2 linked regions of the Homo sapiens genome follow. The protein of the gene in region 2 interacts with the protein of the main gene of each other region in a pairwise test. Each region holds a gene or a part of one and is shown on either strand. Other genes may lie near its edges.

Region 1 (3,500 bases), on a different chromosome or scaffold from region 2:
CCTGCAAAACCTAAGGTATACAAAATCAACGCCACTGTTTATCAGTTATCAGCCAAGTCTCTTGATTGTGGATGTGTAGTTTTATAAGTCTCTTGATATTTGCTAACTATAAATTTTAAGATGTTATTGGATCCTCAAGTTGGCAAACATGGAAATGTTTGACAATCTCCAGGCTTTCTTGTGAATCACATTTTTCTCACATTACCAGAGGGTATGGAATACAGTGACAGATGCCGAAAAGTCAGCTAATCGTCACACTAGCTAAGCTGTTTGCTTTTATCCTCTGGTTTTATGACAAAAGGGGTTCAAGTTCCTGTTTCAGTGAAGTTGTGTTTTATTACATATCATATTGTGGCAGTCAGGATTTTCAAGAGACACACGAGAACCAGTAGAGGAAAGAGAGCAAGAATGTTCATGTGAGCAGGTTTTATTTTAAGAAATTGGCTCGTGATTATAGAGGCTGACAAGTTCGAAATCTGTAAGACAGACCAGCAGGCAAGAAACAGGTAAAAGCTCAAGTTGCAGTCTTGAGTTTGAAATAAGTATAGCAGGTCAGCAGTCAAGACACTCAAGCAGGATTTCTGTGTTCCAGTTTTGAGGCAGAATTCCTTCTTCTGGGAAACTTTAGTTTTGTTCTTAAGGCCTTCAACTGGCTGGATGAGCTCCACCCACATTATTGAGGGTAATCTCTTTTGTAAGGTCAACTGATTATAAATGTTAATCACATCTTTACAAAATACCCTCACAGCAACATCTAAACAGTGTTTGACCAAATAACTGGGTACTAAGGCCTAGCCATATTAACTGTCACACATATATCTTTAATGACATTCCCACATAGTTGAAGCTGAGTACGTTAAACCTACTTAGAGACTTCTGTTAAACAGAAGCAAAAAGAAAAAGAATTATACTGCTTTACTCCTAATTCACTCAGATTTCATGATCACCCTTTTAGAACTTGGTCTTTGTAGAAGATATGTAAAAATATGACTATCTTTTGCTTCTAAAAGGTCTCCTTAGAATAGACTCTTTTTTTTTTTTTTTTTTTAATGTTTTTGAGACAGAGTCTCACTCTGTCTCGCAGGCTGGAGTGCAGTGACCCACACGATCTCGGCTCACTGCAACCTCTGCCTCCCAGGCTCAAGCGATTCCACTGCCTCAGCCTCCCAAGTAGCTGGGACTACAGGCGCCTGCTACCATGCCCAGCTAATTTTTGTATTTTTAGGAGAGACAGGGTTTCACCATGTTGGCCAGGCTGGTCTCGAACTCCTGACCTCAAGTGTTCCACCTGCCTTGGCCTCCCAAAGTGCTAGGATTACAGGCGTGAGTCACCGCACCCATCCCGAATAGACTTTTGTAGTCCCTTAAGTTAACCTGTATGAAGTTATCCTCTACTGACAACATTCTTTAAAATTTCAAGTCATCAGGATGACCAAACTGAGAACCTCTTTTCCGTTTTTCTTAGATCTCAGGCCCCAATGTTTAGACCGGACACAACTCACCTCCATCCACAGCACCGTCGACTCTTGCATCAGAGACAGCAACAGAATAGAAGGTAAGTACTCATCCGATTCCTTTATGGCTTCTTAATTCAGCTTTTAATTTTAACAGTGTAACAACATGCTATTTAGTTGTTTTGTTTTTTTTAGTAAGTTTACTTCATATCCATAAACCTGGATGTATTATCAACATGTAAATATGAAAAGCATAATATTGAGTAAAGAAGCAAGGAACAGAATTATATGTACCATTTATGTAAAACTAAAAGGCACACGGAATAATACTGTGTAATATTTAAAGACAGACACACAAGTAATAAACGTAGAAAAACATTTCAGGGAGGATACATCCATACCAAGGGCATAATAGTGGTTCCTCTATGAAGGAAGAGAAGCTGGAAACTGGGTCTAGAGGGGTACAACAGGGCCTCTGTCAGTGTAGCACTGTGTTATTTTAATATTACTTTAAAATATTTGAAGCAAATTCAACCAAATACATTTTTTTCTATTGGGTCTTGGTGATGGGTAAATGGATATTTATGATAGTATTTGCTGGGCTTTTTCTCTGCATTTGAAATATTTCGTGATTTTTAATGAGTTAAAACAATTTATGTAGACTTCAGAGCTAAATCGCCTGTGTTAAAATCCCTTAGTCCACCACTAGATGTATGGCTTTGGACAAATTACTTGATCTCTCTTGGCATCGATTTGTTGTCTTAAGTGGGGAAGAGAAAACTACCTACCTCACAGAGTTATTCTAGAGCTTATACAAAAGTCCATAGGTGAATATGCTTAGCATATGGTAAGGTACTCAGGTCTTAGTTTTATTTCTTCATTATTTATTACATAGCTCTTTCCTCTTAAATTCTATTAAGACTTAGTTCTTTTTCACTCCCCTTTTAAGAAAAGCAAACGGGAATCTTTAAAAAAAAAAAAAAAAACTGGCCTGGTTTATTCCTCTGTTGTTAAAAAGCGTAATTAATTTGCCCACATGGAATGAATGTGGTGTATGTTTTTCAGTCAGCATCGGAATCTCAATGGTGCGGGAGATAGAGGAAGTCACCGGAGCAGTCATCAAGATCATCTCCGAAAGGATCCATATGCCAATCTCATGTTGCAGCGGGAAAAGGATTGGGTCTCTAAAATCCAGATGATGCAACTGCAAAGCACTGATCCCTACCTGGATGATTTTTATTACCAGGTAAATACTCTGTGCTAGTTTTGAGGATAATAGTTTGGTCCCCTACACTGGTGAGGGTATTCATTTAAATATTGGTACAATTAAATATTTGTAAAATTTTCTTTTGAGGTACTTAGCATCTTGCACTATTCACTATCAGTATATTTCTAGAGCTGAACTTGTGTTACTGTCACTGGCATAAATTATTTGATGGTAAACAACAGTCGTGTTCTGTGCTTGTGTTACAACTGAAATCATCTTCTCGTGGTAGAATTACTTTGAAAAACTGGAGAAACTGTCAGCTGCTGAAGAAATACAAGGTGATGGCCCTAAGAAGGAGCGCACCAAGCTTATCACCCCTCAGGTGGCCAAACTGGAGCACGCCTATAAGCCAGGTAAGGTCCTCATAAGAAAAATGCCCATAATAAAAGAAATTTGAGAAGCTGCTGATGTGATTAAATATAGACAAGTGTATATGTGGAAGGATATGCAAAGATGTTTCAAAGTGATTTTAAAAGTACCATTGTTCTTAATAAATGCAAAAATCAGCCTTTATTCACGTCTGGACTGAACGCTTTGACATGTGCCTTTTTAGGTCCTTTTCTACTTGAGATTTCATGATTTTTTAAATGTGTTATAATTTTCAGTACCCCTAAAATAAATAAGGGGGAAATACTTCAGATTTTTATTGTGATAATTATTGTAACAGAGAGAAAGGATAGATTTTGATAAGGGGTTGCTTTAAATAATACATTGATTTTTTGTCTTTTTTTTTTTTTTTTTTTTTTTTTTTTGAGAAAGAGCCTTACTCTGTTGTCCAG
Region 2 (3,500 bases):
TTGGAAAACCCAGGGAGTCATCTCAGAGGTCTTTAAGCTGGATTTTAAAGGATGGATAGGGATTTGTTAGGTTGAGTAGGACAGGGAGAAGGAACAGCATATTGGGAACAACATGGGCTGTGGAGCATAAGACACAGGGATGAGAGGGACAGGAAGAGTGGTCAGAAACAGCTTGTGAATAGTTGTAGGGTTTTTCTTAAAGTGTTGAGATTTCCTGTATATGATAGAAATCCAGTGAGAGTTTAGGTGGATATGGGTGAGCAAGTGGTTCATGTAACATACTTTTTCAGGAGGCACATAATGAAAATGTAGAAGCTGGATTAAAGGAGTTAGAGTTCATTTACGTCCTGTGAGAGCTCAAGTACATCAGCATAGGGGATAGAAAAGCACAGGATACCAGAATTAGGGACAGACTAGCCATGAGCTATAAAAATAGGAAAGAGTTGAGTATGATTCAGAACTTGTTTAGCTTAGAGAACTGTTGGTATGATTTAACTTGGGAAACAGAAGAACAGATTTGGACGAGGAAAGTAGAATAGTTTGATTTTTGATCCTGTTAAGTTTGACATACCTCCTGGATACTTAGGTGGATATGTCTAACAGATATCTGGACCAGAGAGCGGTTTGGGGTTTGATAGATTTGGTCATTGTATAGTTGGCATTGGAAGTTAGGGGATTACTCAGGAAGAGTGTGTGAACAAATGTTTTTCACCCTTTTGACAGAGGTAAGATCTCCATTTGAGAATCAGTTAAGAATTATGGACTCTGCTGAAGGGAATGAAAGTATGCATATATGCAAGTGTGAAACTTATGGACCACAAGAGGAGAGGACTAAGGGAACCCTAAGGAACAGCTAATATTTTGTTTTGGACAGCATTGAAATGGTTGAAGAGACAAGGGCAGAACAGGAGAGAGTAACGCTACAGATGCCGAGAGAGGTCATAGTGCCAAGAAAGAAGGAGTTTTCAGTAGTCATCATTGTGCCCAGGTTTAGGGTGGGATGAGATCTGGAAATGGGTTGATAGGATTTGACAGGTGGGGGAATGAATGCAGGGAAAATTTTTATGGGACCAGGGCATATATAAGTCAGATAGTAGATTGGGCGGAGGAGCAAATGGGAGGTTAAGATGAAGAAGGTTATAGACTACTATTTGCAAAAATTTAAACTAGAAGAGAAGGAAAGAAGGGTAATAGTTTAAAGAGGAGACAGGGTCGAGAGAAGGTAGGCACCTGTGTTAGTCACCAGCTTTGTTTCCTTAAGTCCAAAACTTTGGAAATAAATTTATAATGTATATTGCGTGTATGTTTCCAAACGTTCCCCTGATCTATTGGTTGAAATTATTGCATTTTTATTTGGTGATACAAAATTGTTTTGCCTGCGGAATTTTATGTGATTTCAAAAACAATAAAAAAAACTCTTTCTCATTAGCGATAGAGATTATCTGATGTAAAATCATAATATTACAATTTTCAGCCTTCAGTTACTAGAAGAAGAAGATTTGTCCTCATTAGCGGTAGAGATTATCTGATGTAAACTCATAATATTACAATTTTCAGCCTTCAGTTACTAGAAGGATAAGATTTGCTTTCATATGCCATATACTAGGTTTGCACTTATGTTGTGCTCCATTGCCCAAACTTTGGTTAAATATTTGATGCGGTTTTAAGTGTAAAATAGTAGCAAAGAGGAAATCATTAGACATGGTCATTTTCTTTCCAAGTTATTGCTACAAACACATAGAGACTTAATAAATTAGCCAGTGGCTCTGTGTATCCAAATACAGAGTATTACAGGTGATTAGGTGCATTGAGTGGTTGTATATAGTTTTACTAGGCAGATTTTGATTATACGGAGATAGATGTGTTAGTAATCTCTCCTAATTAAAAACCAAACAGAGATGAAGATATGACTTGACTAAGTTAAATCAAAAATTGTATTGCACTCAGCCTTTTGGGAGGCAAATATTTTTCTTCTGTAAGGTTATGTATTGTTGTTAAGTAAACACTTCAGCATCATAAAACAATATTTGATGAAGCTAACTGCCATGTTTTAGACCAGTAGTTTCCTTTGTTAATCTAAAATTATGACAATGATAACTATAGTTTATAGACTAAAGAATTGTCATTTGGTTTTTAGTTTTATGGAAACTATAGAAACTCAAAGATTTAGGGGTTCATAGCCACTGAAGAAAAAAAATGATATTGAATGCCGGTGGTGCAGTGGGCTCTGCTGCTTTACATGTGTCTCATTTAATCCTCACACCAAAATTGTGACATAGATACCACCAATTTATAAGTGAGGAAATTTAGGCATTAAAGATGATTGTAAACCCATCATTTCAAGCCAGGACTTGATGCAGGTCTGACTCTAGTTTGTATTTTTCTTTTTTTTTTTTTTTTTGAGATGGAGTTTTCACTCTTGTAGCCCAGGCTGGAATGCAGTGGAGCAATCTCGGCTCACTGCAACCTCTGCCTCCTGGGTTCAAGCGATTCTCCAGCCTCAGCTTCCCGAGCAGCTGGGATTAGAGGTACGCGCCACCATGCCTGGCTAATTTTTTGCATTTTTGGTAGAGACGGGGTTTTGCCATGTTGGCCAGGCTGGTCTCGAACTCCTGACCTGAAGTGATGTGCCTGCTTCGGCACCCCAAAGTGCTGGGATTATAGGTGTGAGCCACTGCCCCCGGCCCCAGTTTGTATTCTTACTGACACTGTGCCCTACTTCCTTTTTTTTTTTTTTTTTTTTTTTTGAGAGAGTCTCAATCTGTCATCCAGGCTGGAGTGCAGGGGCGCCATCTTGGCTTACTGTGACCTCTGCATCCCGGGTTCAAGCGATTCCCTTGCCTCAGCCTCCCGAGTAGCTGGGACTACAGGCGTGCGCCACCACACCCGGCTAATTTTTTGTATTTTAGTAGAGACAGGGTTTCACCATGTTGGTCAGGATGGTCTCGATCTCCTGGACCTTGTGATCTGCCTGCCTTAGCCTCCCAAAGTGCTGGGATTACAGGCGTGAGCCACTGCGCCTGGCCCCTTTTTCTTCTTAACACACTCTCATGGTATTATGACTTGGAATGGTCTTTTGAGGTTAATTTGATAATATAGGAAAACCCAATTGTTGGCCCAAATTTATAACCGTTTACACTAGTAGTTGATCATGTTGACATAATAGTACTAAGTGGCAGAATCTTTGTTAATATTTGTGATTCTCTTTTTGGTTATGGATCAAAAACCTCCCAAGAGTCCACATAAGAGTACTTTTCATGCTAGTCAAAAATTCAGTTCTAAAGCATTTCATTATTTTGGAAAAGGCAGTCTGTTATACATCTGTAGTCAAAAAGCAGTGTATAGCTTTCAAATTTTCTGAAACATTATCAGTGGCCTTAGAGTAAGATTCTGGTGTTGTTAAAGGCTTCTTGATGCTTTGTAAGGTCAACATTTTATGAATAATTTTCTTTTGTAGTTTTAAGGGGAAAAGACTAGTGGATCAAAACTGATTGCTCATA

Evidence for each region.
Region 1: the proteins of CNOT6 (region 2) and PATL1 interact in binary tests that used the Homo sapiens proteins (3 or more experiments, as listed by UniProt).

The regions. Positions count from the first base shown.
Region 1 is NC_000011.10:59,652,038-59,655,537, reverse strand, and holds part of PATL1 (protein PAT1 homolog 1), read left to right. Parts: coding exon 1-15; intron 16-1,465; coding exon 1,466-1,555; intron 1,556-2,519; coding exon 2,520-2,700; intron 2,701-2,950; coding exon 2,951-3,074; intron 3,075-3,500. UniProt on the Homo sapiens protein: RNA-binding protein involved in deadenylation-dependent decapping of mRNAs, leading to the degradation of mRNAs. Acts as a scaffold protein that connects deadenylation and decapping machinery.
Region 2 is NC_000005.10:180,500,879-180,504,378, forward strand, and holds part of CNOT6 (CCR4-NOT transcription complex subunit 6), read left to right. Parts: intron 1-3,500. UniProt on the Homo sapiens protein: Poly(A) nuclease with 3'-5' RNase activity.